4 linked regions of the Homo sapiens genome follow. The protein of the gene in region 4 interacts with the protein of the main gene of each other region in a biochemical or structural test. Each region holds a gene or a part of one and is shown on either strand. Other genes may lie near its edges. The genes, in order: CD93, KLK1, PLG and KNG1.

Region 1 (8,053 bases), on a different chromosome or scaffold from region 4:
CTCCCGTTCACACATCCTTTAGGAAACAGCCTGATGGAACTTTCTGCAGGGCTTCCTCTGTCTGAGCTCGGAGCACTGGCATTCCGGGCAGGATGAAGTGGAGGCGGGGCCACAGGCAGGGTGTCTGAGGCCTGCCCTGGCTCAAAGACAGGTTGTCCTTGAATTTGTTTCCTTGTTAGTGTTGATCACATCCGTAGTCAAGTGTGTGGTAACCTCAGTACATTTGGATGAATTAATTCAAGTATCTGTGAACAAATCCCTGGCCTCTCTCGCCCTAGCCCCGTAGATTATGTGACTTCACAAACACCTGTAATGCACTTCAAGCAACTTTTCTCATATTTTTCAAGCTTCCTTTGCAAATAAACCCAAGGCTATTAGAAATGTAAGAACTAAAGAGGCACTTCCTGCCTCCTTGCCACCTAAGAGGTTAATTGCACTTCTGGCCATTCTGGAGGATGTCAACAGTATCACATTTAGCAAGACTTGTGCTGGCGAAATGGAGGAATGCAAATGTAAAGAAATGTTTCCAGTCCGAACATGTTCCCTTTGACCAAAAAACCAGATCTTCTTACCTAATTGAATAATTAATTGATTTAGTTTTCATCCTAGGAAGAGAAACAAATCATTTCAATCCTAATCAGCATGAGCAACTCACCTTTTCCTCTTAGATGGTGGAAGTGAGCAGAGAAGATATTCAGGGGAGCCCCTTAGCCCCGGCCTCCTCACACCCTGATCCGGAATTGGTCACATTGGAATTTGAAAAGGGAGGGGGAGTAACAATCATTATAGAGTCACGAAATCCCCACCGTGGCACGCCAACACACAGCTTCCACTTCAGGAACATCAAACACCCGTAGAAAATACCTGCATGTTCCAAGGGGCCTTTAAGGAGGAGACTTACAATTGTTTGCTAAGATTCCAGTCCAGTCTTTCAAAAAAATGTGGGTGCCCCTTTGGAATGGGGAGTTCAAAGCTCTGAGGATGGTGGCTGGTGACTCTAGTGTCTCTAGGGCCACCTCACTTTCAGCAGTCTGTCCCAGGTGTCGGACTATGGGAAACAAAACAGACAGCGTTGGAAGCCATGGCGCCTCTGTGCCTGCACGTCCCCACCTTGGGAGAGAGCCCCACGTGCGGCCGTGCTGCAGATGGGCAGTATGCTCTAAGGGGGCCCGAGTGCCTGGCGTGGGGGGAGGTTGAGGGGTCAGCTGCAAGGACCAGGGTGTGTCTGCCCACAGGAAACCTGGGCCTGCTCTTGCTGCCACCTCTTTGTACTGTAGTCAGTGCCCCCATGCCTGCCCATCCCCTCCCCCGGTCACTCAGGGCCCCCTTTACCTGTACTGGTTCTCCATGGCCCTGCTCTCAGCTCGCTCTGGAACCCAGGAGTAACTGTCTGCCGCATTCTGGGGCTTCTTCTCCTTCTTCTCCTCCCTCTTCGCTCTCCGCTTGCGATAGACCAGTAGCCCCAGAGCCAGGGCCAGCAGGAGTAGGATGGCCACCACGGTGCCTAGGATGTAGAATAAAAGCAGCTTTTGCCCGTCAGTGCCATCGTTGTTTTGTGTGGCCACGGAGGAGTCCCCACCTGCAGGCTCCTGGGGGCCAGAGGCAGCTGTGGCGTGATGGATGCTGGGCTCCCTCCAGACGCCTGGGGACCCACTGGGGGCCAGCATCTTGAGTGGGGCAGATGTGATGGGGGCGTCAGATGACAGCGAAGGTCTACTTGTGGTGGGTGTAGCCTTGGGGGTGCCCTCGGGGCCCCTTGTGGGACTGGCTGTTGCAGCACGGGGCACGGTGCTCCCTTCTTTCTCTCCTTTGTCCTCCTCATCGGGGGGCCCAGATGGTGGTCCCAGAGACACAGGCCCCATGGTGCAAGAGACCCCATTTGGGGCCAGCACCCAGCCTGGCAGGCAGCCACAGTGGAAGGACCCTTGTGTGTTGAAGCACAAGCTGTCGCAGAGGGGGCCCCCCGGGCCCACACACTCATCCACGTCCTGGCACTGAGTCCCGTCCTCCCCGGCCAGGACGTAGCCCTCCTCACAGGAGCAGTGAAATGAGCCATCTGTGTTGGTGCAGCCCTGGGCGCAAGGCGAGCGACCCAGAGCACACTCATCCACATCCTGACAGGCCCCCTCTCCAGGACCGCCCGGCTCATAGCCAACCCAGCATTCGCAGCGGAAGCCCCCAGGGGTGTTGACACACTCCTGGGCACAGGGGGAGTCCTGGCATTCATCCACGTCCACACAGTCCAGCTGACTCGAGTCCAGCTGGTACCCTTGGGGGCAGCGGCACGTGTAGTTTTTCCCATGGGGTCCCAGGACGCACGTGGCCCCCCCACGACATGGGCTGGAGCTGCAAGGGTTTCGAGAGGCACAGGTCACCAGGTCATCCAGCAGCCGGAATCCTGGTCGGCAGCCGCAGAGGAAGGAGCCATCCCCCCCTTCAAAGCAGTCCTGGTGGCAGCCCCCATTGTTGAAGTTGCAGCCATACTTGGGGCTGACACAGAGGGGGCCCGAGCTGCCCCAGTCGAACACATCGGGGGCCTTCTCCTTGCACAGGAAATAATGACTCTGAGTCTCGTCCTTGTCACCTTCCCCACAGGCTACATTGGCCGCAGAGGCAAAGGGCACAGCCTCCAAGGAGGAACTGGTGGTCTGGAAGGGGGTGGTGTAGGTCACCTGACCTGGGCCCCCCAGGGCCAGAGGCCGGCACATGCCTTTGAAGCTGAACTTGCACACGAAGCCCTCAATGTTACTTCCGGGGGAGCCTGGGCTCCCACAGGGGCCCTCAGACCACTTGGGGAGGCGGCTGGGAAGGAGCGGCTGGGACAGGTCCAGCAGCAGAGACACACAGCGCTTGGAGATGCACGAGTTCCGGAGCTCCTTGTGCCAGTTAGAGTAAGGCGTGTCCTCCCCCCCGCCCACCCAGCTGAAGCCCTTCAGCGGCAGACTAGGGTCCAGGCACTTGCCCTTCTCTCGCTGGAGCCCAATCCAGAACTTGCTCATCCTCGCCGTCAGGGCTGCCTCCCGCCTCAGGAGCTGGGCCAGTACTCGCTGGACGTGCTGGGCCTCCTCCTTGCTCTTCACAGTGGCCAGGTTGCCCCCGTTCTGGTTGCAGTGGTTCTGGGCCTCGGCAGCGCTCAGCTTGCCCGAGTGGGCCGTGTAGCAGGCGGTCCCCACGCAGACCACCGCCTCCGTGTCAGCTCCCGTCCCCGCCCCGGGCTGGGTCAGGAGCAGCAGCAGCAGCAGCAGCAGGCCCATGGAGGTGGCCATCCCGGTCTCTGTGTGGCCCTCTGCGGGAGGCGAGAAGCCCAGCGGCGACAGGAGCTTCTATCTCGGCTCCCAGCTGGGCCCCAAGGGGAGCTGAGGGGTGAGCTGCAGCCACTCCGGCGCAGAGAAGGACACAAAGGCTGAGGGCTTTCCACGTCCCCCTGACCCAAGGCGCATCCTGTACTGTTGTACTTCTTATTTCTCACCGGATGTTGGGGCTTCCTGCAATGAATAGTTCTCTGACTCCTGCTGCCTTCATCACGGTGCTGTTGTTCATAAAAGGAGTCAGGCAGCTCTGCCGGGTCCCTGGCTCAGCACTGTGGAAACAGCGACGGGGGGAAGACGTTACAGCCCCGAGATACTGCCGGCTTGATTTTGGCTCCATTCTCTTTCTCATGGCATGAGGAGCCTCGGAGGCATGCCATGGAGTGAGCAGGGGCTTTGGGGGCTAGGAACTCGAGGAAGCTCCCTTAGTAACCCATAATAAAATTCCACTTTGGTTTGCAAACCACCAAAAGAGAAAAAAAAAATTCTGAGACTTAAGACACAAGGCCATGGATGGTTATAATTTTCAGCCTTTTTTAGAAGCAAACTGGACTTTCCTTTTGCCTAGCTCATGTTCTCTGTTGACTTTGGGAGCCTTTTTTCTTTTATCCTCCCATCGTGAACCTTAAATAGACAGGCATTTTTTAAATAGGATACGGGTCGTGGGAATGTCTGGGTTTTCAACATAATGCCAAGCTCCTCGATAATGTTAATCCAAATTGGGTGAAATTTGGCAGTTCTGGGGGTTTCATAGTGGAAATATTGCATTGTGAGGTGTCAGGGTCACAAAAAGCATCAGAAAGAAAATGAAAATGTGTCCGGCCTCGTGGCGCAGGGCTTGCAGGCTCACTTCCCCCGGCTCAGGATTCCTAGCAAGGGCCGGAAATCTGGGCAGGGAGCGGGAATCGAAGCCCGGGCAGGCCCTCCCGCGACACCGCGACTCGGCAAAAGCCAGGGACTCACAGTGTGCTTTTCCTGCAGCCACAGACCTTTGCTCATTGGTTGGGATCCCCCAGGAGGGGACCCTGAGACAGGATTTGGGGAGACTAGTTTATGTGGGAGGGGAAGTGAAACAGACAAGGAGGAAGCCAACCCATGATGACTTGCTGAGAAGGTGACCCTGGGCTGCTGGAGCCAGTGCCAGGAAACTCTGGGGGCCTGAGGGGACCACACCTCAGCACCATCTCAGCTGAGGGAGAGGCTCCACTGCTCTCCAAGTCCCCTGTCATTGGTAGCAGGCTGTATCTCTCACTTTGAGAGACTGACTATAAATTCTAGCCCTGCCCAGTGACCAGGGGTCTCTCTCACATAAAACTTGTTTCTATGGACAGACACCCTTGTGGCTCTCGTCTGACCCATGTCCAGTTTATTCCTATCAAGACAGCCACTTCCTAAGAGATCCCTGATGGGAGGAGAGTTGGGTTGGGGTGTGGGTCAGGGGAGATGCAGGAGGCAGCACAAGAAGACACAGGAAGCAACACAAGCACCGTGTCACTTACAGATCCCAGGGAGAGGGCAGTGCACCCCACGGGGCCAGCAAAAAGTGGGGAGCTGTCTGGGTCACAAACACTCACCTGGAGGGGGGTGAAGGGAGAGAGAGAGACCTGGGTCCTAAGCCTTTATTGGGGTCCAGGACGTTTCCCAAGCAGGTTTCCCAAGGGGACTTCTCACTGGTGGGTTTAGAGCAAACAGACACGGGCTCCGTGGGGTCCCTGTGGCTGAGAGGTGGGCATGGCGGCATGTCTGGGAAGTCCCTGTGGGGTGTGGAGTCACTGAGACCATCAAATGGGCTGTATCTGCCTGTCCCACAGGGAAATGGTCACCAGGAGGTGGGTGTACAAGGCAGATATCTGGGTTGGCCGCATTGAGGAACTGGGAGGGGGTGGAGCCCTAGACACCGTGTCAAGAGCAATAAACCCTGCTTCTGGTAGGAGAGGGTCCAAATTAGATTCAAAATGGATGCAATGCACAATTATAAGAATTCTCTACACAGCGGCAACTCTTTGGTGCTCTGCACTGACCGTGAGGGCCCCAGGGGAAGAAGCGCCACGGTGGAGAACACAGTGAACGCCTGTGGACCCGGCACCAGCGACCACCACAGTGGCCTCCATGGAGATGTTGAGTTGTCCCGGGGGCTAGGAGCTCGCTGGCTCCCCAAGGGACAAGGAGGCATCTCTGACTCCAGCTGGATACCTCCTAAGAATGTGCCTTAAGTCCTTGCATTTTAGCAAAGATATTTGAGACATTTTGGGAACTCTCCATAGAAGCCACCAGACCCTCCCTGTGCCCCTTCATTCATCCATCTGTTTGTCCATCCACCCATCTAACAATTGTTGATTAAGACCCTGCTATGCACTGAGTGAGGCACTGGATTCCAGGAGGGGATCCCTGCCTCTGTGATCCTGGAGTCCTGTTAGAGTGGACAACTTTGAACAAGTCACGGCACTGATGGCTTTATTGCAGGCAGCACAGGGGAGCGGGGAGGTCGTGGTTGATACAGGGGTGGCATCCTGACTGGGGGATGGGCAATTAGGAGAGACTCCTCTGGAGAAGACAGGCAGTCAAGCCGGAATCTAAAGGAGAAGCAGCTCAGATGTGGAATGGTGTCGGGATGGGGGAACAGCATGTACAGAAGCCCTGGGGACAGAGAGTGAGTGAAGGGCAGGGAGACCAAAGCCCAGGCAGTGGGAGGGAGGATGCAGGGGAAGATGGAGCCCTGTGAACCCCAGTAATGAAGGCTTGAGGCTTCGTCTTGAAATCCACGGGGAAACACTGAGGGCTGGCATGAGGCCTACATGTGGAAGGGGACTGGTCAGTGGACCCAAGCAGTGGGTGGGGGGGCCCTCAGCAGGTGGCCGCAGGTTTCCAGGCTGTGGAGTCCAGGTCAGATGTTCTCGGGGCTGGGTGGAGGTGGGGGGAAGGGCACCGGGCACGCAGAAGGACTGCATGGCTCCTGCCGGGAGCTGGGGTCCTGGAAGGCTGTGTCCGCTGGAGGTACCTGGTTCTGAGAACACAGGGGATTGCCTCTTGGGGCTCAGGGTCTCCCAGACCCCCTGTCCTTGTGACCTGCCTCCTCGGGACGCTAAGTGTGCCACCAGAGCTGGGTAAGCAGCCAGCTGTGAGGGGTCCAGGGAAGGCTGGTGTCCCTGGCTCCCAGTCAATATAGCTGGCCATGCATTTGAGTTTGGCAAGGGTCAGTCTTGTTCTCTGCTTGGGAGAAGCTTCATTTCTAAGGGTTTATTTACAAGCAGGTAACTTCTTAACATTCTGTAAAATCAATTCTGCAGCCCTAGCATCCACTCATAGCAGGGAGCCGTTCTCGTGGTCTAGGCCCCTGTTTGTGCAGCTCGGAGGTAGATTCCTCAGAGGTAGATTGTGATCTGCAGCATTCGCTCAGCATTCTACTTAGTTGGTGCTTAAGGATATGGGCTAAATGAGTGACTTTCAGCATGTTAGCCACTCTGACCCCCAGATCTTTGTCAAGATATCTTCTTTAGCTGTAAGTTATTCATCTTCCATGTGGGAACTTTCAAACCAATTACTGTTCACTTAGCCAAGTGATGACATCTTAAAGAAGAAAATGAACTAGCAAGACATATACTCTGTTTTTTATCCATTAACCTTGGAAGTATTTGTAAAGCACCAACAGTGAGAAAGACTATGTAAAATGCAGAAACTGCCTTGCCCTGGGGGTCCTTGGATTTTACTTTATTATTTTCAGTAACTTGGTTAACTCAGCCCCACTTCTCATCTATAAATGCAGAGGTGGGAACAGGGCCTCTGGAAACTTTCTTGCTCTAACATTAATAAAAGTGAAATCATGCTTAACTCTCCCCTCTGGAATTAGGGAGAAAGCAAGTTGGGAAGAGAGTGGACACTGAGACCATTGCTGAGCCCTCGACATACTGCACATGTAAGCAAACCTCTGTCTAAACTGCACACACCCAATTTCATCCCAAATTGACCCGCTGACTGCCAAGACACAGGGTAGTTTCCTATTCCTTGTCCCCCACATCTGACTTCCACTGTGTCCCTTCACCCTTTGGCTGATCCCTGCTGGGCTCAGGTGGGTTAATTCACCTGGGACACTTACAGCTAGGTTCTCTAGCTCCAGCCCCGCCCTTCTGTGTCCGCTCCCACCTATAGGGGACGCTCCTTAGAGGCTGTTCAGGGGATTCGTAGAGGCTGAGGGCATGGTGCTTCGACCTCAGGGGAGGATGAAGAGCTTGCTTTTCCTGGGAGGGATTTGGTGGAGTTTTACAAAGAATTTAAGATAGTCTGAATGCAAACTTTGAGGGAATTCTGCACCTCACATACTAAATTCCCCATGGATGGTGTTTCATCCCATTTTATTTAGAGAGCAGATTATACCAGACCTCTCCAAGGACCGATACTTAAACAGCAGGAATCAGCAGAAGGAGATGGAAAAAGTTTTTCTCGGCAGATCTTTGGACGGAAGCCACGTTAGGTGTTCTAGAACCATGGCGAGCCTAACAGCATGGCATGTACCCTGAGCAAAAGGCTCCTCACCATTTGTGTGTATTCTGCAGTCTTTATGAGTACTCTGAGCTTTCTTTTTAAATTGCCTTAAAAATTTACTTTGCACGATGCTGGAATGGAATGTTCTGATCTCAAATATGGGGCGAGTTTAATCTCAGTTATTTGGGAGCAGACTAATTGGTTTGTGGATCATTCAGGCATCCGGCCTGTCTTTTTCCTTTTTTTTTTTTTTTGTAACTAAAAAT
Region 2 (7,834 bases), on a different chromosome or scaffold from region 4:
TGGGTCACACATACTGAGTGGCCACATGCGTTTGACGTCTGTGACAATTTGGTGACCGTGAATGACTGGTTTCAAGTGACCACCTGTCTGAACCTGTATCCAGTGCCCCTGTCTCCACCCCCAACCACAGAGGACTTCTTGCCCTCTGGTCTGTTCCCCTTCCTCTCTCTCCCAGAGTCTTATAGCAAATGGGGTGGGGGCTAGAGTTCTGGAGAAAACAGGCAGCGGTTGTAAATAAACAACAGGGCAGGCGGAGCATGGTGGCTCACACCTGTAATCCCAGCACTTTGGGAGGCTGAGGCGGGCAGAGCATTTGAAGTCAGAAGTTTGAGACTACCCTGGCTAACATGGTGAGACCTCGTCTCTACTAAAAATACAAAAATTAGCCAGGTGTGGTGGCGGGCACCTCAGCTACTCGGGAGGCTGAGGCAGGAGGATCACTTGAACCCAGGAGGCGGAAGTTGCAGTGAGCTGAGATCATGCCACTGCACTCCAGCCTGGGCAAAAGAGTGAGACTCCGTCTCAAAAACAACAACAACAACAAACAAAAACAGGGCAGGGTGTCTTGAGAAGTTAGGGGAAAGGCATAGGCATATAGTAGTTAGGGCAGGGTGCAAGGAAGGTGTAGGAGGCAATGTAAACGTCCCTGTCCTCAGGCATCCTCTACCCCTTCTCTTAGCAGCCCAGGATGGTGACAAGTTGCTGGAAGGTGACGAGTGTGCACCCCACTCCCAGCCATGGCAAGTGGCTCTCTACGAGCGTGGACGCTTTAACTGTGGCGCTTCCCTCATCTCCCCACACTGGGTGCTGTCTGCGGCCCACTGCCAAAGCCGGTATGAAGGCAGGGGCTCAGGGTCCTGAGGGAGCCTGGTTCGGGGGGAAGAGCTCCTAGATTTGGGGGAAGACGGAGGCAGACGCCAGAACTCCTGGGTTCTGAAAGACGAGGAGGCCGGATGTCAAGCCCCTGGGTTAGGAAGGAGTGTGTGTTTCAAAGCCTTCGATCTCTGAAGGAGGAAGGAGAAGACTAGTTCCAGCTTTTGAGCCTCAGTTCTAGGGATGTGAGAATCCTGGATTCGGGGACAGACCAGGAGGGGGCTGGGAGTAGTTGGAGGGGATCGAGTTCTAGGAGTGTGCCTGACTTCAGACTCGTTGGTCCTTGAGGAGCAGGGGCTGGAACCATTGGCTTCAGGGTCTTGGGAAAAGGTAATGGGATGTCGAGATTTCTAAAGGGTCGGGAGACCTCGGGTTGCCCACTCTTTGATCTTTCTGTCCTCTACTTGCGGGTAACCACTGGCCCGCACTCCACTGGCGGGAAAACCACTCGCCCGCACAGCTTCATGAGAGTGCGCCTGGGAGAGCACAACCTGCGCAAGCGCGATGGCCCAGAGCAACTACGGACCACGTCTCGGGTCATTCCACACCCGCGCTACGAAGCGCGCAGCCACCGCAACGACATCATGTTGCTGCGCCTAGTCCAGCCCGCACGCCTGAACCCCCAGGTGCGCCCCGCGGTGCTACCCACGCGTTGCCCCCACCCGGGGGAGGCCTGTGTGGTGTCTGGCTGGGGCCTGGTGTCCCACAACGAGCCTGGGACCGCTGGGAGCCCCCGGTCACAAGGTGCGTGAAAGGATGGAGCTGGATGCGAGGCCTCAAGGAATCCTATGCTCCAGGGCTCTTGGGCGGAGGGGACAAGGGCCGGAATTTATGGATCTGCTCCAAGTCCACTGTCTTCCCCAGTGAGTCTCCCAGATACGTTGCATTGTGCCAACATCAGCATTATCTCGGACACATCTTGTGACAAGAGCTACCCAGGGCGCCTGACAAACACCATGGTGTGTGCAGGCGCGGAGGGCAGAGGCGCAGAATCCTGTGAGGTCAGAGCCTAGAGGGGCCATCAGGCGGAAGAAGAGGGATGGGGACAGGTGTGGGAGTCCGGATGGGGTTGGATTTTCTTTGCTTTGGGCCAGAGAAGATGCTAGGGTTAGGCTTGGAGATGGAGTAGGAAGAGAAGTTAGAATAGGGGTGAGGTTGGAGTTGGGGTTATAGGTGGGGATTGCGTTGTTTGAGGTGGATAATGTGATAGTTAGTTTGAGATGGCATGGGTTGGGGTTGAGAATGGGAATGGTTTGGTTTGATTCTGGGTGGGAAATACGTCAGGGTTGAATTGGGATGAGGTAGATTTTGTTTGGAATGCAGAAGACATGAAGATTGAGATTGGATTTTGAGATGGGCATGGGTTTGATTTGATTTTGAATGGTGAGGATGTGGGCTGAGTTGGATTTAACTTAGTACAGTTGCACTGGAGTTGCATGGGGGTGAGATTGGATATAGGTTGGGTGAGTTGTATTGAGCTGTGTTGAATTGGGGTTGGGGTTGGGGTTGGGTTGGCTCTGTTTGGGATAAACTGGGCTGTATTGAGTTGAGTTGGGTTGGGGTTCCCTGGGATGGGGATGGATTGGGTTTGGGGTGAGATTGCAAATGGTGATTAGGATGAGGATGAATCCAGGAGGTTTCACTCAACCTGAGACCCCCTCTTTTCCCCACAGGGTGACTCTGGGGGACCCCTGGTCTGTGGGGGCATCCTGCAGGGCATTGTGTCCTGGGGTGACGTCCCTTGTGACAACACCACCAAGCCTGGTGTCTATACCAAAGTCTGCCACTACTTGGAGTGGATCAGGGAAACCATGAAGAGGAACTGACTATTCTAGCCTATCTCCTGTGCCCCTGACTGAGCAGAAGCCCCCACAGCTGGCCAGCAGCCCCGCCTGACATGGAACAGAACGGAGCCATCCCCCAAGACCCTGTCCAAGGCCCAGATGTTAGCCAAGGACTTGTCCCACCTGAGGACAAAGCTGGCGCTCAAGGTCACCTGTTTAATGCCAAGATAACAAAGCGCTGATCCAAGTTGCTCTGTAGGAATTTCTGTGACTTTTTTCTGGGGTCAAAGAGAAACCCCGAGACACTGTACACTGTTCCTTTTCACCCACCACCCCGATCCCTAGGTGAGGAGAAGCGGCTTGAAGCAGGGCTCCATTCATTCAACACACATGACCACCCGTGTGATCTTGAACAAGAGGCCCAATCTCACTTCGCCTTGGTTTCCTTATCTGTAAAATGAGACCATCTTATTGCTGACTTCAAAGGGCTGTTGTGAGGATTAAATGAGATGATTCGTCTGAACTGATTAAAATCGTGTCTGGCACTGAGTAAATACCCTCTATCTCTGGATCCCAGTTAAAGGACCTAACAGACACTAGATTACCAAGAATGGCTTTTTCTTTAAGGTTTAGTTCTGGGCCGGGCATGGTGGCTCACACCTGTAATCCCAGCACTTTGGGAGGCCAAGGCGGGCGGCTCACTTGAGGTCAGGAGTGCAAGACCAGCCTGGCCAACATGGTGAAACCCCATCTCTACTAAAAATACTAAAAAAATTTAGCCGGGCGTGGTGGCACACGACTGTAATCCTAGCTACTTGGGAGGGTGATGTGGGAGGATCGCTTGAACTTAGGAGGCAGGAGTTGCAGTGAGCCGAGATCGCGCCACTGCACTCCAGCCTGGTGACAGAGCAAGACTCCATCTCAGAAAAAAAAAAAAAAAAAAAAAGATTTAGTTCTGGGCTTCCTGGTAGCCATGGCAAAAAGGCAAATACTGTCCTTTCCTTAGCCAGGTCCCTGATATACAGCAGAGGCTGGAACTCTGAGCTGCTTTGATTTTACCAAAAAGCCAAGACAACCTGTTGGAAGCCTATGGGTTTACCATTGAGGCTGCAGGAATCTAGTTCCTAATTATCTTCAGAGACCACAAAATGTGATGTTCAAGGTCGCTGAATGTTGAAGTACATGAACCTGGCTCGTGAGACCTAAATATTGTACTGGTGGTGGGGGGGAAGGGTCATTGGAATCTGTGGTTAGCCTGATCTTGACCTGGGAGGGAAGGTTGTCCAGATCTCTGGGACTTTGGAGGACAGGACGTTGAGCACCCATAACTGGGAGCAAGAAGTGGGAGGCTCATTGAGACCCCAGCATTGTTTGGGAGGGACACTGGATTTTGTAATGCTAAAGAACTTACCCTGGGAGACCCCTGAAACTTCACATTCCTGGATCTGGAGGCACTAGGAATGTGGTGATGTGTACCCCAAAATTTTATTATGAAAGGAACAGTAGCTTTGGGGACCTAGGTCCTGGGTCTGGGAGTGCAAGAACCAGGGCATTCTGAAGGCCAAGGCTTATATTTCAGGGGGAACTGGCAGCTGAGATGCTAGTATCTTGGCTCCGAGTGGTGCAGGGAATCAGAGCCCTAACTGCTGGTGTTTGAGGGCACCAGGTCTGGGGGTGCAGGGCCTTAATTGAGACTGAGGTATATGGGGCTTTGTACCAGGGGTCACTGATTCCTCCGTCTTCCTGTTTCTGCTTCCCCTCAGTCCCCCCTTGCCTCACTGGCTGCTCCCCAGAGCAAAGCCCCAGAGCCACAGGCCCTGCCCCACCTGGCTTCAACCCCAGGAATGCGTCCAGCGTGATCCAGGGCCTGCAGAACAGGTGCTGGTTCTCCCTCCCCGTCTACAGCTCTGGGGATCGGAGGGGGGGGGGGCAATTGTCCAGCCCCCAGGCAACAGGGGAAGGGCCTTGGCCAACATCTGGGTGCCAGCAGGGCAGGGGTGGGGCTCTGAGGGGATAAGGGCTTTTAAAAGCCTCCCCAGGGAGGTTCCCCAGTTCCTCCACCTGCTGGCCCCTGGACACCTCTGTCACCATGTGGTTCCTGGTTCTGTGCCTCGCCCTGTCCCTGGGGGGGACTGGTGAGACAGTGGGGGGATGTGGGAGGGGGAACGGGCCCTGATTCTCTTGCTGGCCTCACATCCCCCCCCGATAAGACCTTCCCCTCCAACACCCCACCCTCATCCCTCTGGCCCACAGTCTATCCTAGTCCGGGGTGCCCCGGCTCTTATCTATCTTGCGCGGCCCCACCCTAAACTTCCACCCCCGCTCCTCCATGTTGTCATAGTGCTCACTCCCACACCAGATTCCTGCTCCTCCCAGGAAGCCTCAGTACTTTCTCCTCTTCCCTAGCCAACGCCCTGTCCCACCGCTTTACCAAAGGGGCAGATTCTGGGCCATCTCTGTCTCTCTCTGGAGGACCCCAACCCTCCCATGGGCTTCCCCCACCCCACAGGACTCTGATCATCCCCTCCTGCCCCCTAGTTCCCTGCGGCCACCTATTTGGCTCCTGAGTCTACAAATCCCACCACACTCCAGTGACTTTTTCCATCCAGCTGTCCGCTCTCAACTGTGTCCTCCAGACCCTGACATCTGGTCTCCCCAGTCCTTCCAGGGTCCCCCAAATTTCACCAGAAAACCCTGCTTCCCAAACTGGCATGTGGGATCCCCCATCTGGTATGGGGGGGGGTCTGCAAATGTCCCTTCCCACCCAGCACCCCCAGCTCTCCCAGGAAAAACACCACACCCTCCCACCACATGCTCCTTTCCTTGGGGAAGTTCCATCCCGCCCCAGGCCCCAGCCCTTCTCTGCCTGAATTGTTCCTACACAGCTCTGGTTTTCTGGAACCCCACCCCAAGGATCCTGAATGCCTTCTCAGCCAGCGCTTCTGCCCTGGCCTCCCCCAAGTCAGTATGTGATTCTACAACCTCACGTCAAGTGGGTCCTGCATTGCATTCCCACAGCTGCTTGGCGCCTGTTCTCACCACTTCTCCAATCCTCTTCCTAGGATTGCCTCCAAGAGGACCCCATATCCTTCCAGTACCCTCAGACCATGAACCCCATCCCCATGAGAAACGAAGATCCCATCCTTCACCCTGTCCGAGAAGGACTGCCACTCACGCCTCCCTCCTCCTGAGCCCCGTCCCAGTCCTGACCGCAACTGTGTTCTCAGGGCCCCAACCTCCCCTCAGATTGCCATTCCTGGTTCACAGGAAGGACCCCAAAACCTCTCGGAAGCCCACCTCTAGCCTTAACCATAGCCCTTTCTTTTACCCTTTAACCAGGAAGCCCTGAAATCTAACTGTCCCAGCCAAGCTGGCCCCTTCCAACCCCAATGTAGGGACCCCAAGTCACCCCCAAACTCTTCAGTCCAGATGCTCTTCTTTACCTCTCAGACCTGGTTCCCTAAAGCTGCATCCTTTCCTGAACCTCAAAAGCCCAACCCAGGTCCTGTTTCCCTAGCCTAGGAGCCCCTTAGCCCTCCAGATTCTTCCTCAGTGAGCCTCTGATCCTGTCCCACCCTTGGCGCCTTGATCCCTGGTTTCCAGAATCCCTTTCCACTCCCCTAACCCACCACCTCCCATCCCCCAGCCCCAGACCCCAAATGACCTGACGCCCAGATGCAGTGTCTGCTCCAGACACTGTCTCCTGTCTCCTACCCTGATCCCTGGAGGCTGCTCTACTGTCAGAGCACAAAATCTCCCCACCAGGTCCAGCCACCACTCCAAAAGCCCAGGGAACAGTCCAGAGTCCCACCCCTTCCCAACACCCCTTGCCCATGTCCCCAACCTCCAGCCCTGGTCCTCTACCCGCAATGTCCCTTCAGACCCACAGCCCAGCTCCCTCTCCTAGCCTTGTCCCTGGCCTCTCCTGCCAACCCTGCCCTTCCTGACCCAGCACCGCCTCTGCAGGTGCTGCGCCCCCGATTCAGTCCCGGATTGTGGGAGGCTGGGAGTGTGAGCAGCATTCCCAGCCCTGGCAGGCGGCTCTGTACCATTTCAGCACTTTCCAGTGTGGGGGCATCCTGGTGCACCGCCAGTGGGTGCTCACAGCTGCTCATTGCATCAGCGAGTGAGTAGGGGCCTGGGGTCTGGGAGGAGGGCATCTATGCTGCCACAGGATTGACAGGCCAGTGGCATTCCCCTTGGATAACCTCAGGCAAGACTGGGGGGCTGAGGCAGAGAGGAAGGCTCTGGCGCAGGTCGCCTGGCAGGGCAGAGCTGGGCTGGACACCCCTCTCCAAGGCTGCCTGGGTCTCTTGGGATCTGGTTCTGCTTGTGTCTCTGTGTGACTGTGTTCTGGTCTCTGTCTTCCTCTCTCTCCTCTGTCTCCTTGTCTCTGCATCTCCCCTGTCTCTGTCTGTCTCTGAGTCTCTCTGCGGCATCTCTGTCACTGTGTCTCACCCTCCATCTCTCTACCCATCTCTCTCTCTCTGGGTCTCTACCTCACCGCTCCCTCATCCCTACTAAACACACACCCAGATGGACCTAAGGGAGGCCCCAGAGTAAAGGAAGGGCTTTATCCCCAACTTGTGTGCCTGGGAGGGGGCGCCTCTCCCTCTGTCCAGCTCCCCGCCCCACAGGATATCCCTCCACTCTGGAGAGACACAGGGAAGGGCTGGTTTCAGCGGGAGCTGGGTGGGGCAACTGAGGGAGGAGGAAGGAGGAGGCGGGGCGAGAAACGCGCGGGAGGGTGCTGGGAAGGGAAGGGGGCCTCGACCTTGGACTTCAGGCCAGGCCACCTGCCCCTGGGGAGCCCGCACCACAGCCCCAGCTGCAGCTGAGCCGCTCTCAGGCCTCCCCTCCTCCCTACCTGCCCCCACCCTCCCCACCTGCCCCCACCCTCCCCCAGGGCCTCCCTCCCTTTTCTCTCCCACACTCGGTCACTCCTGCTTCCTCTCTGCCTCTGTTTCTAGTTCTCACTCTGACGTCCCGCGTCCTTTTTCATTTGTCTGCTTCTCGCTCCCTTCCGTGTTCTGTTCCCTCTTCCTCCCTCTTCCCTGGGCCTGTTTCTCGCTGTCCCTGTCTTTTATCCTTCTCATCTGCCTCTTTTTTGCTCACCCTGTTTCTCACTGCCCTCCCCTCCGCCTTTTTCACCCCTCTGTCCTTTTGAGCTCTTTTTT
Region 3 (7,437 bases), on a different chromosome or scaffold from region 4:
GATAAAGGGGTCCTTTCATCTAGAAGACATAACCATCCTAAATACATATGTGCCTAACAAAAGAGCTTCAAAATATACAAAAGAGTTACGATCTAAAAGAGAAATAGACTAATTTACAGTTAAAGTTGGACACATCACCATTCATCCACAGTAGTCAATGAAGGAGGAGACAGACAATCAGTAAGGATACAGAAGAACACCAGCAACCAACTTCACCTAAATGACCTTGAGGGAACACCCCACCCAACAACCGCAGAAGACACATTCTTTTCAAGAGCACATGAAACATTCACCAAGATGGCTATATTCTGAACCATAAAACAAACCTCAACAAATCTAAAAAAACTGAAATCATAAGGGCAGGCTTTCTGACCACAATAGCATTAAACTTACAAAGCTACTGTATATTGTGATGATGCCACTGGTATACAAAAATAAGGAGAAAACTTGGGCCCTCAGTAAGCTCCCATACCCTTGCTTACCTGTGGGAGCCAATTGTTCCGTGGATACTGGGGAGGAGTCACAGGACGGTATCTTACAGTACTCCCACCGCACTTGGCTGTTGGTTGTATGGCACCATGGGGCCCTTTTTCCGTCAGGATTGCGGCAGTAGTTTTCATCCAAATTTCTGAAAAAGAAGTGATTGTGAGTTTAGCTTTCCAAAAAGAAAAAAGTCTAGGGAACCACGCTTTGAGAACAACCGTTACGGGAAAAAACGTGCTAAAGTTCATTTCCTTTACTTATGACTAGATCAGTTTTTCTTCCAGAATACTTTATCCTGCGTTCCTACAGTAACTAAAACTAAGGCAAAGTCAATGGGATTTCACATTCCATAGCAGCAGAATGAGACCGGAGGGGACTTACTTGCAGGGGAAGTTTTCTGGTGTCCTGTTATGTGTGTGAGGGGTCTGTGCACTCCAGTGCTGACAGGTGTGCCCGGACACGGTAACAGCCACATTCCCGCGATAGTTTTCACCTGTTCCCTTCAGACACTGGTAGGTGGGACCAGAAGATGGTGGAGGTGTTGCTTGAATGGGCAAAATAAGTTACAATGAATATATATATTTTTTGAGACGGAGTCTCGCTCTGTCGCCCAGGCTGGAGTCAGTGGCACGATCTCAGCTCACTGCAACCTCTGCCTCCTGGGTTCAAGTCATTCTCCTGCCTCAGCCTCCCGAGTAGCTCAGACTACAGGTGCGTGTCACCACAACTGGCTAATTTTTTTGTATTTTTAGTAGAGGTGGGGTTTCATCATATTGGCCAGGTTGGTCTTGAACTCCTGACCTCGTGATCCGCCCACCTCGGCCTCCGGAAGTGCTGGGATTACAGGCGTGAGCCACCGTGCCCAGCCCTACAATGAATAATTTTAAAATAGAGAATGCACAGATGGATGTTAAGGAGGATGGCTGCAGGGTGTTCTGGCCTGTCTTGGCTTTTGCTCAGCCTCTCTTGGAATTTGGCACTTGAGAATTGTTTCATGTTTTCAGATGAAATCAATTTAGTAGCATCTATGCCTGTGAGACCCTTTCACAAGGAACTCCTTCAGAGAAAGACCCTTGGGTAGGTGCTTCTTTCTATGTTCTCTTTGCTCAGTTCTTCCTACCTGGTAAGTATCAACACGTGTCACCTCACACCCCGAATTCTCACATACACCAAAGGTCCACTCTCTTTCCTGAAGAATAAATTATTCACTGAGTAGACATGACTGAATGGCACCCAACATGCCATAAAAGCCAAACAACAGGGAAAGAGTCCATGGAAAGAAGGCAAAAAACACCTCCAAGGAAAAGTGTGTGCATCCAGAAATCAAGATATTCTTGAGGAAAAAAGATGACAAAAAGAGAAACTGAAAAAAAAAGAGAAATTAATATTCATAAAAAGGGAGAATGCCTGAGGAACTTCCGCTTTCAAAGGACACATGTCAGAGGAAAGGAGGGGAGGCCAACCCTCACTGAATCCTTTTTAACCTTTCATGCCTGTATTTCTCTTAGTGTGTAATCCTTTGCTTCAAATTCTCAGAGAGGAAAATATGATAAAATTGTTTACTCCACATCATTTCTACTAGGTCTGCCATTTCATCTTCTCCTCTTGAACTCTTCCCCACCCCCACCACTCACCCTCTGCTCCCCAAGGTGGAAAAACTGGACACCCACAGACCTGAACATTGTAAACAAAGACACTCTTTGTTTACAAAACAACTATTAGAACTCTGGTTGAAAATGAAATCCATGTGTCAGAGAGCATGGGTCTGATTTCCCTTTAGCACAGAGAGAATAGGATGAACAACACCTAAAGCCTACATTTCAGTGAACTCCTGAGGCAGAAGTTTCAGTTGCAAAGAAAGAAAAACATGATAAATGGACGCTCTGATCAATCACCCACAGTAACCAATAACCATAACTGTTTTAAACCAGCAATAAAATAAAGACCAATAACATCCCATAGGACTTGTAGGTCACTTTTCAGAGGCTGCACTCAGGCACTGACACATGTTTTCTTTTGATTTCAAGAACAGGGCAGGTCCAAATCCTGGAATCTGGGTGTGCATCATACTCACTGCAGCGGGGGATGTCACAAAGTTCCCAGCGCTTGTTGGGGTCGGTGGTGAAACACCAAGGCCGCAGCTCCCTATCGGGGTTACGACAGTAATTCTTCTTCAGGTTCTTGTTTGGAAATCTGAATGGACAAGAAAGATTTTAGTAGCACTGAACATTTACATTCATGGATAAGACTCTTTTTCAAGAGCAAACATTGAGCACCTGCTGTGTGCTAGGCACAGTCGGGCATGGAGGAGGTAATCAGATGAAGGCTGTGTTCAGAGATGGCAACAAGGAAACAAGGTTGGCCCTGTATTCCAAGGACTTTCTTTTTTTTGTTTGTTTTTAGAGACAGGGTCCCACTTATTGCCCAGGCTTGCCTTGAACTCCTTGAACTCACTCAAGCAATCCTCCCGCTTCAGCCCTTTAGGTAACTAGGACTACAGGCATGTGCCACCATGCCCGGCTGCCAAGCACTGTTTTTCTAACAGTTTACATGTGTAAAAATCACTCAACAGAATCAGTGACCTTATCATTTTGGCCATCTGGAAAATTGATGTAAGCAAATTCCAGTTATTCAACCACAAATGATAGCAGTCTTTAAAATGTAAAGTGCTCCCTGCCTAAAGATACTCATCTAGTACCTAACAGAGCCAAGAAATGTGCATCTTCATAGCTTAAAGGAATGGTCCTTCTGGTCTACCAGGCTCTGCTCCCACCAGCCTTGAAGCTTAGAAAAACCAAGAGGAGAAGCTGTGCTCTTGCAAGGGTCTCACCATGCAGTATGGGGCTGGATCCTTCCTCAGTGGGGCCCAGTGGCCAGGGCTGTTGGATGCACTCCATGCCTGGTGGCCCTCTGCGTTTATTCATTCCCTCTCTGATTGTAAATGCTTACCAGGATGGAAAGAGGAGCCAGCAGCGGCTTAAGCAATCCTCTTCTCCTTCTGGTTTCCTGGAAGTGCCTTTACCCAGTTTTGGACCCTTAGGTCTTTCCTGTATTTCTCCTTTGAAGGAAAATGGCAGCTGCTGTGTTTTAAGCTAGCTATTTGGAATGGGAGGTGTACAAATTCAATAGAGCTGCTTTCCACCGTGGAATCTGTGGCTCAGCCTCACTTCTGCATTCTTGAAAGCCCTGGTATGGCCCTGTAGTCATCATAGAATGAAGAGGAAGACCAGAAGCGACTGTGGAATGGGAGGTGTTTTCCAGCACAATTAATGTGAAATAGAATACTCACGAAACCTTATTCTAGGAACCATCATGACTTTCTAGAGCAAGAAGCTTATTCTTATTTTAAATTCGTGGTCCCCTTAGAGAATCTGATGGAAGTTACGAATCCTCATTCCAGAAAAACACATTGATGTAAATATACATAAAACATCAGGGATTCAAAAATCCATGACGTCTGCTCATAGGTCAAAGGTTAGGAGACTTGAATCTCATTGGTACAAAGGGAAAAGAAAGACAAGGAGTAAAGAGAAAAGGAAAATATTTGGAAAATACACCAGCAACATGTGTGTGTGCATTTCTGAAGACAGATGTTAATGTATTCATTACTGACATTAGTGTTTGAATGTGTGTGCACATCAGCTGAGGATCTGGTTATTATTCAAATCAGATTCAGAGGGTGTGACATTCTGGATTTCTAACAAACTCTCAGAAAACATCCCTGCTGCTGACCCGTGGACCATATTTTGAGCAGCAAGAATGCGTATTTCACTTGCAATATTGTGGGAGGAGGTTAGCTTTGAAATTAAAAACATCAGGCGTTCACTTCTTGAGGAATGCTAAAATATCTAAATGACAGCAAATGTCTGATAGAGCTGCAGAGCCTTAATTAAACATGGAATGTTTTTCCCAGTGAGACTTACTTGGAAGGAATGTATCCATGAGCGTGTGGGCTCTGAGAGTCCCAGGCCTGGCATTCCAGTCCAGACATGGTCTTGGAAATTTTGCCGTCATAGTTTTCTCCACTGCAATGCATACATTCCTCTGGACAGAGTGGGAAGGAAGGACAGAGAGGAAGAAGAAAACTGAAATGGATGAAGCAAAATAGAGAGTAAAAACCAGAATCCTACTCACTTAAGTGCGACTTGCCTCTCATTCCGATGTAATTCACAACAGGCACTTGGCAATAAAATTGGCAATAAGGACTCAGGATTTTCTAGCATAATCCAAATGTCATTTTCCTTTTAAACCGTAACATTCACATATTTTAGTCAATACTCCCTCAACTATTGTAGTCATGACCAAGTTCAGAATTTCCATGATGCCATGTCCTTAGACCGGGATGCACAGGCCAGTGGGGAGCCAAGGGTGCATATATTCCCAGGAGTCTACGTTCTCCATTAGGAGTTTTCAATATTTGGCATCTTCATTTCAATAATGATCTTTAAAACTTTGTATGAAATTATTCTGATCATTCCGCTGACTGCTGAATGACCTGGCACCGTCTCAGGGTTTTAGTCTGGAGTTTTTGTTTATGCTCATGGCCTCAGGGAGAACAATATTCACCTGAAGTGACAGCGCTTCTCTTTTTATGTTGTTGAGAAGCATGATTGGCTCTTTTTTGCAAAATTATTCACAAACTTAAACTTTGATTCAGAATTATTGAAGTAACATGGTGAGGCAGAGTAATATGTGACTTAAATTTTATGGAGTACTAAGGAAAACGGGCAGACTTAATATAACAGTGATGCATTGGTGGTGCTTAAGGGCAAATACCTATAACATGGTGTACAAATAAAGGATCCCCGTGATTCGAACAGGTGGAAGTGATGGGAGAACTGAGTTGTCACACAGTACCATATCCACACTGTCACACAAATCTCACCTTTATTTATTCCCTTTTGCACTAATGTAGCCAGAAATGTGAAACGATGACAGTTTTTTCAGTAGGATTTTTTTAAAATTTTTTAGCATTGACCTTTGAGGTGCACTATTAAATTGCTCAGTCCATTCAAATAATGGATTGCTGATTTAAAAACTGGTTCCTTGCTTAGCTTCAGCAAAACAGCAAAGTCTACCACATTAAATATATATTGTTTATTTGATTTTTATTGATTTTGTTGTTTTATTTTAACTATTTAATTGCAAACCTGTCTTGGGGTTAACACTGTGTAAGAGTTGTAAGCATAAGAAGTTTGTACTTAGAGTTTAGATGTAGTTTTATATTTGTACATGTTGATGTAACATTTTAATAAAAATAATTCAGGTCTGCTGGGCATGGTGGCTCATGCCTGTAATCCCAGCACTTTGAGAGGCTGAGGCAGGCGGATCACCTGAGGTCGAGAGTTCAAGACCAGCCTGACCTACGTGGAGAAACCCTGTCTCTACTAAAAATATAAAATTAGCCAGGCATGGTGGCACATGCCTGTAATCCCAGCTACTTGGGAGGCTGAGGTAGCAGAATCTCTTGAACCCGGAGGCGGAGGTTGTGGTGAGCCGAGATTGCACGGTTGCACTCTAGCCTGGGCAACGAGAGCAAAACTCTGTCTCAGAAAAAAAAAAAATTCAGGTTAATTCTGGGGTTTTGCTTCTTTCCGAGAGGTGAATACGTTACTCAATTATTAATAACATCCCTGTGGGAAGGGGCTTTACAACAAATTATTTTACAGGTGAAGGGCAGAAATGAAAACATTTTCTAGAACCACTCCTGACCTTCACACTCAAGAATGTCGCAGTAGTCATATCTCTTTTCTGGATCAGTAGTATAGCACCAGGGCCCCTGCGGATCGTTGTCTGGATTCCTGCAGTAGTTCTCCTCCAGTCCCTCTGAGGGGTGTGTAGCAGGTGAGAATCTGGGGAGGATGGAAAAGAAGCACTTAGACTATATTCTAAAAATCAGCTTGCTATTAGCAAGGCAGAAGGAGATGCTCTCGATTCCCATCTGAGATTGTCATCCAAATGCATTTCAGCTGGGTGCTGCAGCATTTGTGTGGTCAGATTTTCAATTTCTCTATTGATAGGCTGCTTCTGGCACAGTAGCTAATATTACCATTGCTACTGTGACAGCCAAGTCTTAGAGAGCCAAAATATTTTTATTGCACAGTCAGGAGAAATATAAAGGCCTCAAAAGGCTGCCATGGTCTTAATTCATTCCAAACACCTGCTTTTGTCAGTTACCGTTTTCTCTGTAAAAATTTTTGTAGTTAATACCATTTTGTCCATGTGAACTATCTGCCAGGAATTCCACTAACATCTTTCCACACATTCTCTCTTTTAGTCCTAATAAAACCATTTGAGGAAGGTGTTATTATCCCTATTTTACAGATGAGAAAACTGAGTGGCAACGTAAAACAAAACAAAACAAAACTTGCCTAAGTGTAAATAGCTATGAAGAAGCAGATCAAGAATTCAAAGTTGATCTGTCTGATTCCAAAGTCCTGGTTTTCTCTGAAATGCAGCTTGAATTATTGGGGATGGAGGAGGGATTTAAGCTTATTTTCAGTTCTAGAGATGAGTTGCTGTATAGAGACAACCATTTAGATGAAAATCACAAGACTTACAGTCTAGAAAGGCAGGTTTTATTTCTGGTTCTTCTGTGAACCTATTTGGGATAACCCCCACCCCCCGAGACCTCAGTTCCCTCATAAAGATGAGCCTAGACTACCTCATAAAAATGGCCCAGAGTGTCTCCATGGCCCCCGATAGTCTCTGACTTTGCCATTTGGTTGAATCAGTTTTCATTAACTCACGGGGAATATTTGATCTGCTCATCTCATAGGGATATAGCAAAGGCAATTTGTTGAGTGTTGGGGGAATGGATAAAGGTGAGTAACAAGCACTAAGTTCCTATTTGATAAGCGTCATTACTGAGAACTTAATGCCACCTAACACCAAACTGGGAAAAGTACAAAAAAATGCACTAAAATAAATAATAGGCAAGTTGCAACATTTGAA
Region 4 (7,657 bases):
ATTTCATCCTCCAACAACCTGATGAGGTCAATATTATCTCCCATATACAGCAGAAAGTGCCAGTTCTGAGAGGTCACAGCTCCCCCGCTATCACACAGCTAATGGAAGGCAGAGTCAAGATTTGCACTTAACGTTGTGCAATGGAAGCACCCACCCCCTCCCCTCGCCAGCTCTTTGGCTTGGCCCAAATGTCAATTTGTTATCTCTCTGGAGTCTGAGCCACATGTTCTGGCTGGACACTAGAGCCCCCTTCTCATGGAAAGGCTTTCTCCATGTTTAACTGCTGGCTTCTCCATGATTTTTCTGTCTATACAAGAACACAGATATAAAGCATCTGACTTTTCTACACATTGGAATGTTTATTTGCATTTCTCATAAACAGGCTCACCAGTAGCCATCATTTCTGCATCAGTAAAAAAATCTGGCAGGGTCAACGGAGAAAACAGAAGGCCCAAGAATGGCCAATACACTTACTGCTTTTGCAGCATCCTTGTACTCACAGTCCTGCCAGGTTTTGCCACTTTGAACAGGACAATCCCCCTCCTTGATTTCGTACTTGAAGGAATAAAACGTGTCAGAGCCAACCTGAAAAGCAGCCAAAGATACTTAGGGTTCATCCAACTGACCCAACAGCAAATAATTCTAGTGGGTTCCGGTAAAGTTAGGAATATTGATCTTTGACTTGAGAGCAAAGCATTCACTTAAAATATATTTATATTTCTATCATAAACATTTATGTGAAAGAATGTTTATAATATATTCACAATGTACTTTTAAAGGTTACAAAGCAGTATGCATAGTATTAGCCCATTTTTGTCAAAACTGGTTTATATATAAATCTATGTCTTTTAAAAGTCTGGAAAGATACACAGCAAGCTGTTAAAATGTTTGTCTGTCAGTGGTGAGATTATAATTATCTTTCACTTTCTTCTTCAAGCAAACATTTCTTTTTTTTTTTTTTGAGATGGAGTCTCGCTCTGTCGCCCAGGCTGGAGTGCAGTGGCGTGATCTCGGCTCACTGCAAGCTCTGCCTCCCGGGTTCACGCCATTCTCCTGCCTCAGCCTCCAGAGTAGCTGGGACTACAGGCGCCCTCCACCACGCCTGGCTACTTTTTTGTATTTTTTAGTAGAGACTGAGTTTCACCATGGTCTCGATCTCCTGACTTCGTGATCCCCCCGCCTTGGCCTCCCAAAGTGCTGGGATTACAGGCATGAGCCACCGCGCCCGGCCCAAGCAAACATTTCTAAGTGGTCTTTTTCCCCTAATGAACGTATATGACTTTTACAAATTAGAAAAAGCAAACAAGAAAACCTTAAACAAATGTTAACAGTTATCTCTGTATGGTGGAATTAATTATGGGTGATTTTAGTACTTTTATTTGGTTTATTTTGTTTCCTACTTTTTCTTTTTTAAACAGCTTTATTGAGATATAATTTACATGCCATAAAATTTACCCACTAAAGGCATACAATTTAATGTTTTTTAGTATATTTACAACCATACCCACAATCTATTGGGTACCACACCACCAATAAACTGTTGCTTGAGATCACCATGAAGCAGAATTTCTCACATGACTGTACTAGATTATGAAAGAAAATGGCTCGATTTTACTTTCAGAAAAAATAACATGTCCACTGTGTTTATTTTCCTTTATCCCCATGTTGTCACATGGCTAGTTTTTTTTTTTCTGCTAAAGTAACCAATTGCTTGACATTCCCAGAGATATAGTCTTTTATAGTGAAATTTGTTTAAACATACTCTTGAAAGATTGGTATTTCTTTGAACCATGCATCCTGCCAGGATTTGTCTCCTGCTGGAGTGCATCATTGCAATAATATCAAAAACTAACTAAAACGTTGCTGTTAAACCCAGTACATTCAGCCATACAGACTTCTGTCTAATTCCGTAGAATCACATTAACCTCATTCCTCACTCCTCTTAGACATGCCCCATGAAGTACCCCCTCCCATTAAAGGTTTGGAGTTCTATAGTTTTTAGCCTAGGGCCAGAGACCCAGTGAATTCTTTTGCTGCAGTCTAACTAAATTCCTAAATTCTCCCTCTCTACTTGGTCCTGTTGAGATTTCTCCATCTACTTTTGTTTCATTTCACCCTAGATTCTACTTCTCTGATCATCCAGGAAGCCAACCTGCCTGAGGACGAGTCATACTCTGTCCTCCCACCCCAGGCCAGAGAGTGGTATCTGTCTTTCCACAAGTTGTAAGCTTCTACCTTTGATGATCACATATTTGGTAGTGCGTGATGGTGGTGGGTGGTGGGTGGCGGTGGTGGTGGGTGGTGAGGGGTGGTAGTGGTGGTGGGTGGTGGTGGGTGGTGGTGGTGGTGGGTGGTGGGTGGTGGTGGGTGGTGGTGGTGGTGGGTGGTGGGTGGTAGGTGGTGGGTGATGGTGGTGGGTGGTGGGTGGTGGGTGGTGGTGGGTGGTGGGTGATGGTGGTGGGTGGTGGGTGGTGGTGGTTGGGTGGTGGTGGTGGATGGTGGTGGTGGTGGGTGATGGTGGTGGGTGGTGGGTGGCGGTGGTGGTGGGTGGTGAGGGGTGGTAGTGGTGGTGGGTGGTGGTTGGTGGTGGTGGATGGTGGTGGTTGGTGGTGGTGGGTGGTGGGTGGTGGGTGATGGTGGTGGGTGATGGTGGCGAGTGGTGGTGGGTGGTGGGTGATGGTGGTGGGTGGTGGTGGGTGATGATGGTGGGTGGTGGTGGGTGGTGGGTGGTGGGTGATGGTGGTGGGTGGTGGTGGGTGGTGGGTGGTGGTGGATGGTGGTGGTGGTGGTGGGTGGTGGTGGTGGTTGTGGTGGTGGTGGTGGGTGATGGTGGTGGGTGGTGGGTGGTGGTGGTGGGTGCTGGTGGTGGTATGTGTGTGTGTGTGTGAGGCCTGGACTCCTAGTGATAGTACAAATCCCAAGTGACTTCAAGGTTAAACACAATTCACTCACCGTCTTAGTGGCTTCAGTTATGCGGTACAATACAAACTGGTTGTTACTTTGGTTTTGACTGTTATATTTCTTCAGAGCAGCATCCACAGCTTTAAATAAATCCTTGTCATTGCAGTCAATTTCCTCGGACTGTGATTCCTGGGTTAAACTTAGTAGCAGCCTGGAGCAGAGGAAAAGGATGGTAATTAGTTTCATGATCTAACAATCTCCCTCTAGGAGCTGAGGGATGGTTTCACCAAGAATCAAGAGCCAACTGGGATACTGAATTTGACAATCTCCAGCCTCTTGTTTCTTCTGTCCTCCTCTCTGCCTCAGAACTCAGGGCACTGGTTGGATTCCTGCTGCCAGACGCTAGTTGCCTTGTTCCCAAAGGTTAAATGGCTCTGCTGGGTTATCCAAACATATTTACAGCTAGAACATTGCAACACTGGGGTTGTTAACCTGCTCATTTGCATTTGAAAATCACGTGGCAGCACAGTGCATATTTCCAGGTGATTATACAACTTTATGTAGCAAATCAGAGCAGAATCTGATGAAGGAGGGGAAACAAGTGCCTACTAACTCGGTTATTCCCCTGTGACTTTTGCAAAGCCATTTTTGAAGGTCACTACATGGGTAAACAATGCAAGAATGAGTACAATGTGCAGACACATTTCATACAAAGTTTCTTTGCAGGATACCTACCTGCATAGAAGCAGACTGCTGTTAATTCTATTACATGCCTAAGAAGCTCATGCACAGGGGCATCCAGTGAGTTCCAGGAGTCCCATGCAGGACATTGGCACAACTGAAAATAAAATATGGGCGTCCTATCTGCTCTCTGGACAGGCCAGCCTTTCTCTGCTCAGTTGCATTAGTTCTGTAAAAGAAAATTGCTCCCAGGGTGGAGATAGAGGAAAAGCATAGGAAGGGATGGGTTGAGTGAAGCCCTGGATTCCCTATGCTTGCTTCTTTCTGGTTTGGTGTTGTTGGTTTGGCACAGAAAAAGATAGCCCCAAATATGGCTCTTTGGCATGCCGAGTACTTTGAACTGAAAGACATTAAAAAGGCTGCAAAAGCAAAGTCTCTTTCTTGCTTTCTCCTGCCCGTCTTTCTCCTGCTCCACTTCTCTCAAGGCAGGCCACAGAAGCTAGAATTTCTCTTCCCCAAGGCGGGTCATAGAACCCTTCTCCCTCAAAGCCAGCAATAAAACTTTATTATTCTTATTTTCCTCACATCAACACAGAGTGGGGAAACTATATTACAGAATGGTCCCCACCTGTAGACCAACATTGGAAAACTACAGTTGATAATCTCAGCAGAAGTGTGAGGCTTGATGGTATCAACATCCTTACTCCAGTAAAAATTGGCCAGGCACGGTGGCTCACACCTGTAATCCCAGCACTTTGGGAGGCTGAGATGGGTGGATCACCTGAGGTCGGGAGTTCGAGACCAGCCTGACCAACATGGAGAAACCCCATCTCCACTAAAAATACAAAATTAGCCGGGCGTAGTGGCACATGCCTGTAATCCTAGTTGCTCGGGAAGCTGAGGCAGGAGAATTGCTGGAACCCGGGAGGTGGAGATTGCAGTGAGCTGAGATTGCGCCATTGCAATCCAGCCTGGGCAACAAGAGCAAAACTCTGTCCAAAAAAAAAAAAAAAAAAAAAAAATTCGGCCTATTCACTCTGCTCCTTGTTCAGACTTTATTTTTTTAAAAAGTCTGTAGAGCCATGTTCATGAGGACAAACCTAATTTTTCTTTTTCTTTCTTTTTTCCTTTTTTTTTTTTTGACACAGGACATAGATGTTTGGACTATTTTCAATCTTTTTGTTTCTGATAAAAAATTATGTAAAGAAAATCTTTGTGCTCACCTATAAAATAGAACAAAGATTTCTTGGAGAGATGTAAAACATGGTTTTGCATCTTATTTTATATACACTTATAAATTTCAGGTTAAATTTATTCTTAGATTCTATGCCTAATTTTTTTTTTTTTTTTTTTTTTTGAGACAGAGTCTTGCTCTGTGGCCTAGGCTGCGGTGCAGTGGTGCAATCTCAGCTCATTGCACTTCCCGGGTTAAAGCAATTCTTCTGCCTCAGCCTCCCAAGTAGCTGGGATTACAGGGGACTGCCACTACGCCCAGCTAATTTTTGTATTTTTAGAAGAGACGAGGTTTCACCATGTTGGCCAGGCTGGTCTCGAACTCCTGACCTCTAGTGATCTGCCTGCCTTGGCTTCCCAAAGTGCTAGAATTACAGGTGTGAGCCACCGCACCCAGATGCTATGTCTAATATTAAAAGCTAGCAATGACTGAGCCTCAGCACTGGCGTCCTAACTACAAGGAGCACCTTTAAATTCATTCAAGGTTGATTGAATTGGATATGACTTTACTTTTCTGCCAAATCGTATTCCTCCCTAATTCTTGGAAAAGTTTTCATACTTTTTATGTGATACTAGCAATTGCACTCCCTTCCCCAGGAGTGTTGTATCTCTTCCCCTACTCCTCCCTCACACACACAGACACACACACACCCAGAGCCATAAGAACCAAAGACACTATGTGTGTGCAAATACCACTTAGTCTGGTACTGCTCATAACAAAGCCTACTTAGAAAACCAACCTGAGGGTTGAAGACTTCACAGTTTATGACATCATAGGACAAATCTGCTCTGCAGAATCCAAAGACGTTCAAAGAGGAGAGAAGCGTGTGTGTGTGTGTGTGTGTGTGTGTGTGTGTCTGTGTGTGTGTATGCATATGGGGAACTGAAGATGCCCAGCCAGAGTTGTGAGCTTCCAGTCTTTCAGCAAAGGAAGAAGAGCTTTAGAAAAATCAGAGTAATATGATCAGATCGCCCCACCAGTGGCTCAACAATCTGTCCTCGTGTACACTTTGAAGAAAGCACAGGTGGTGAAGTGTCTCATTTCAAGTTGTTGTGGTTTTCTGCCATGGAGGAAAGTGTTGAAAAAAAAGGGAACTATACAGCATAAAGATGGGTTTTCACAGATCCTGTCAAGGTAAGTGTCTGCTGGCTCTACCCTAAGTACAAGGGCTACAACTGGCTGGCACTCCTGTGCTCTAGAGGCCCCTAAACCCAGCTGTGAAAGGTGAACTAAGACAGGAGGATGGCTGTCTGCTAGACATGAGCAGGCACCAGCACTGGGCTTCCCCATGGGTGGTGGTGAGGAAAACCATACCATTGCTGCCTTGCCCTTAGGCCAACCCTTCTGCCCTGGAGACCTGAGTTGCCTGTGCTTCAACACCATTCTTCATTCTGCCTTTCACAAAATGTACCACCTAAGTGATAAGGTGAATATCATTTCACTGAAAACGTTCAAATGATATGAATATAAGAAGAGTGTGAAAAATCACCCATCCTGCACCCCAGCTTCTTCTCAGAGGTGCCACTGTCATTCATTTTATATGCTTCTCCTTCTAGCCTTCTATTCACTTCATGGCTTGTATACATTGCAGTCTATTTAATTTTGCATTTTCTTTCTTTCTTTCTTTCTTTCTTTCTTTCTTTCTTTCTTTCTTTGTTTCTTTCCTTCTTTTCTTTCTTTCTTTTTCTTTTTCTTTTCTTTCTGTTTTGATGGAATCTCACTCTGTGGCCCAAGCTGGAGTGCAGTGGCATAATCTCGGCTCATTGCAACCTTCACCTCTGGGGCTCAAGCGATTCTTCTGCCTCAGCCTCCCAAGTATTTGGGACTACAGGTGCGTGCCACCACACCTGGTTAATTTTTTGTATTTTTAGTAGAGACGGGGTTTCACCATGTTGCCCTGGATGGTCTCAAACTCCTGACCTCAGGCGATCCACCCACCTCGGCCTCCCAAAGTGCTGGGATTACAGGCATGAGCCACTATGCCCGGCCTAACTTTGCATTTTCTAAATGCATGACAAACATCAACCAACTGGCAGTATCTCTCATGTCTATTCCTCATTCTCATTGCCCTAATTCCCACTGCCTGGGTCTGGCCCTCATTCCCGCATACATAAAATAACTTCCAAGTTCATGTCCCTGTCGCCTGCCTGAGATTCCCCAGGCACCCTGGGGCCTCTCCCACTCACCCACTCTGTATGCTAGCTCTCAGAGGTAGCTCTGTGCTGAAGCACGCTGTGCTATAACCTGGAGCAGAGTCTGGAATGGGAGTAAGGTCACTGAATGGAATTCTAAGTTCCAGCACTCCTGTTCTCTACAACTTGCAGTGCTCCCTCTCTGATACATTAAGAAGGGTACATTGCTTTGTAGCACTCCTGTGGTACTCTGTAGTGCTCCTGGTCTGTCCTCCTGATTTCAGTTGTTTCACCAAAGAGGGAGTAGTTTATTTTGGGAGAGAGAAGGGAGGCTTCATGTCTTTCCATAATGTCTTCAGCCACTCAAATCCACTCCAGGTAAGCAAAGAATCGAAGTGAAAACAGTAGCCTTGTTTTGCCTTAAGATGAGCCCACAGGCTCATCTCCCAAATAATGACAGCTCCAGAGCCCACACAGAACTTCTGGAACCCCCTGCTTATATTCAATTATTCCCCAACACCCTTCTTTCTGATTCCCTACCCACCTAGAAGTAGTGGTGCCAGGAATTCACCAGGAATGCCTTTACCCAGACCCTCTTCCTATGCAAATCCTACCCATGCATCACTACACAGCTGAAGCCTCTTCCCATGCAATCCTAATAGATCCGCCTTCATTACGTAGCCCCAGTACGTTTACCACTCCTGTGTTC

What was found.
Region 1: the proteins of KNG1 (region 4) and CD93 form a complex in vitro, tested with the Homo sapiens proteins (one study listed by BioGRID).
Region 2: the proteins of KNG1 (region 4) and KLK1 form a complex in vitro, tested with the Homo sapiens proteins (one study listed by BioGRID).
Region 3: the proteins of KNG1 (region 4) and PLG form a complex in vitro, tested with the Homo sapiens proteins (one study listed by BioGRID).

The regions. Positions count from the first base shown.
Region 1 is NC_000020.11:23,082,927-23,090,979, forward strand, and holds the start of CD93 (complement component C1q receptor precursor), read right to left. Parts: upstream 3,399-8,053; 5' UTR 3,267-3,398; coding exon 1,333-3,266; intron 1,049-1,332; coding exon 1,024-1,048; 3' UTR 1-1,023. UniProt on the Homo sapiens protein: Cell surface receptor that plays a role in various physiological processes including inflammation, phagocytosis, and cell adhesion.
Region 2 is NC_000019.10:50,820,661-50,828,494, reverse strand, and holds the start of KLK1 (kallikrein-1 preproprotein), read left to right. Parts: upstream 1-4,707; 5' UTR 4,708-4,746; coding exon 4,747-4,792; intron 4,793-6,623; coding exon 6,624-6,783; intron 6,784-7,834. Other genes in the region: KLK15 (kallikrein-15 isoform 4 preproprotein), read left to right, coding at 680-833, 1,334-1,617, 1,738-1,874, 2,547-2,699.
Region 3 is NC_000006.12:160,711,884-160,719,320, reverse strand, and holds part of PLG (plasminogen isoform 1 precursor), read right to left. Parts: intron 6,336-7,437; coding exon 6,196-6,335; intron 4,528-6,195; coding exon 4,407-4,527; intron 2,677-4,406; coding exon 2,558-2,676; intron 1,028-2,557; coding exon 865-1,027; intron 629-864; coding exon 483-628; intron 1-482. UniProt on the Homo sapiens protein: Plasmin dissolves the fibrin of blood clots and acts as a proteolytic factor in a variety of other processes including embryonic development, tissue remodeling, tumor invasion, and inflammation. In ovulation, weakens the walls of the Graafian follicle.
Region 4 is NC_000003.12:186,713,033-186,720,689, reverse strand, and holds the start of KNG1 (kininogen-1 isoform 1 precursor), read right to left. Parts: upstream 3,332-7,657; 5' UTR 3,148-3,331; coding exon 2,953-3,147; intron 586-2,952; coding exon 475-585; intron 1-474. UniProt on the Homo sapiens protein: Kininogens are inhibitors of thiol proteases.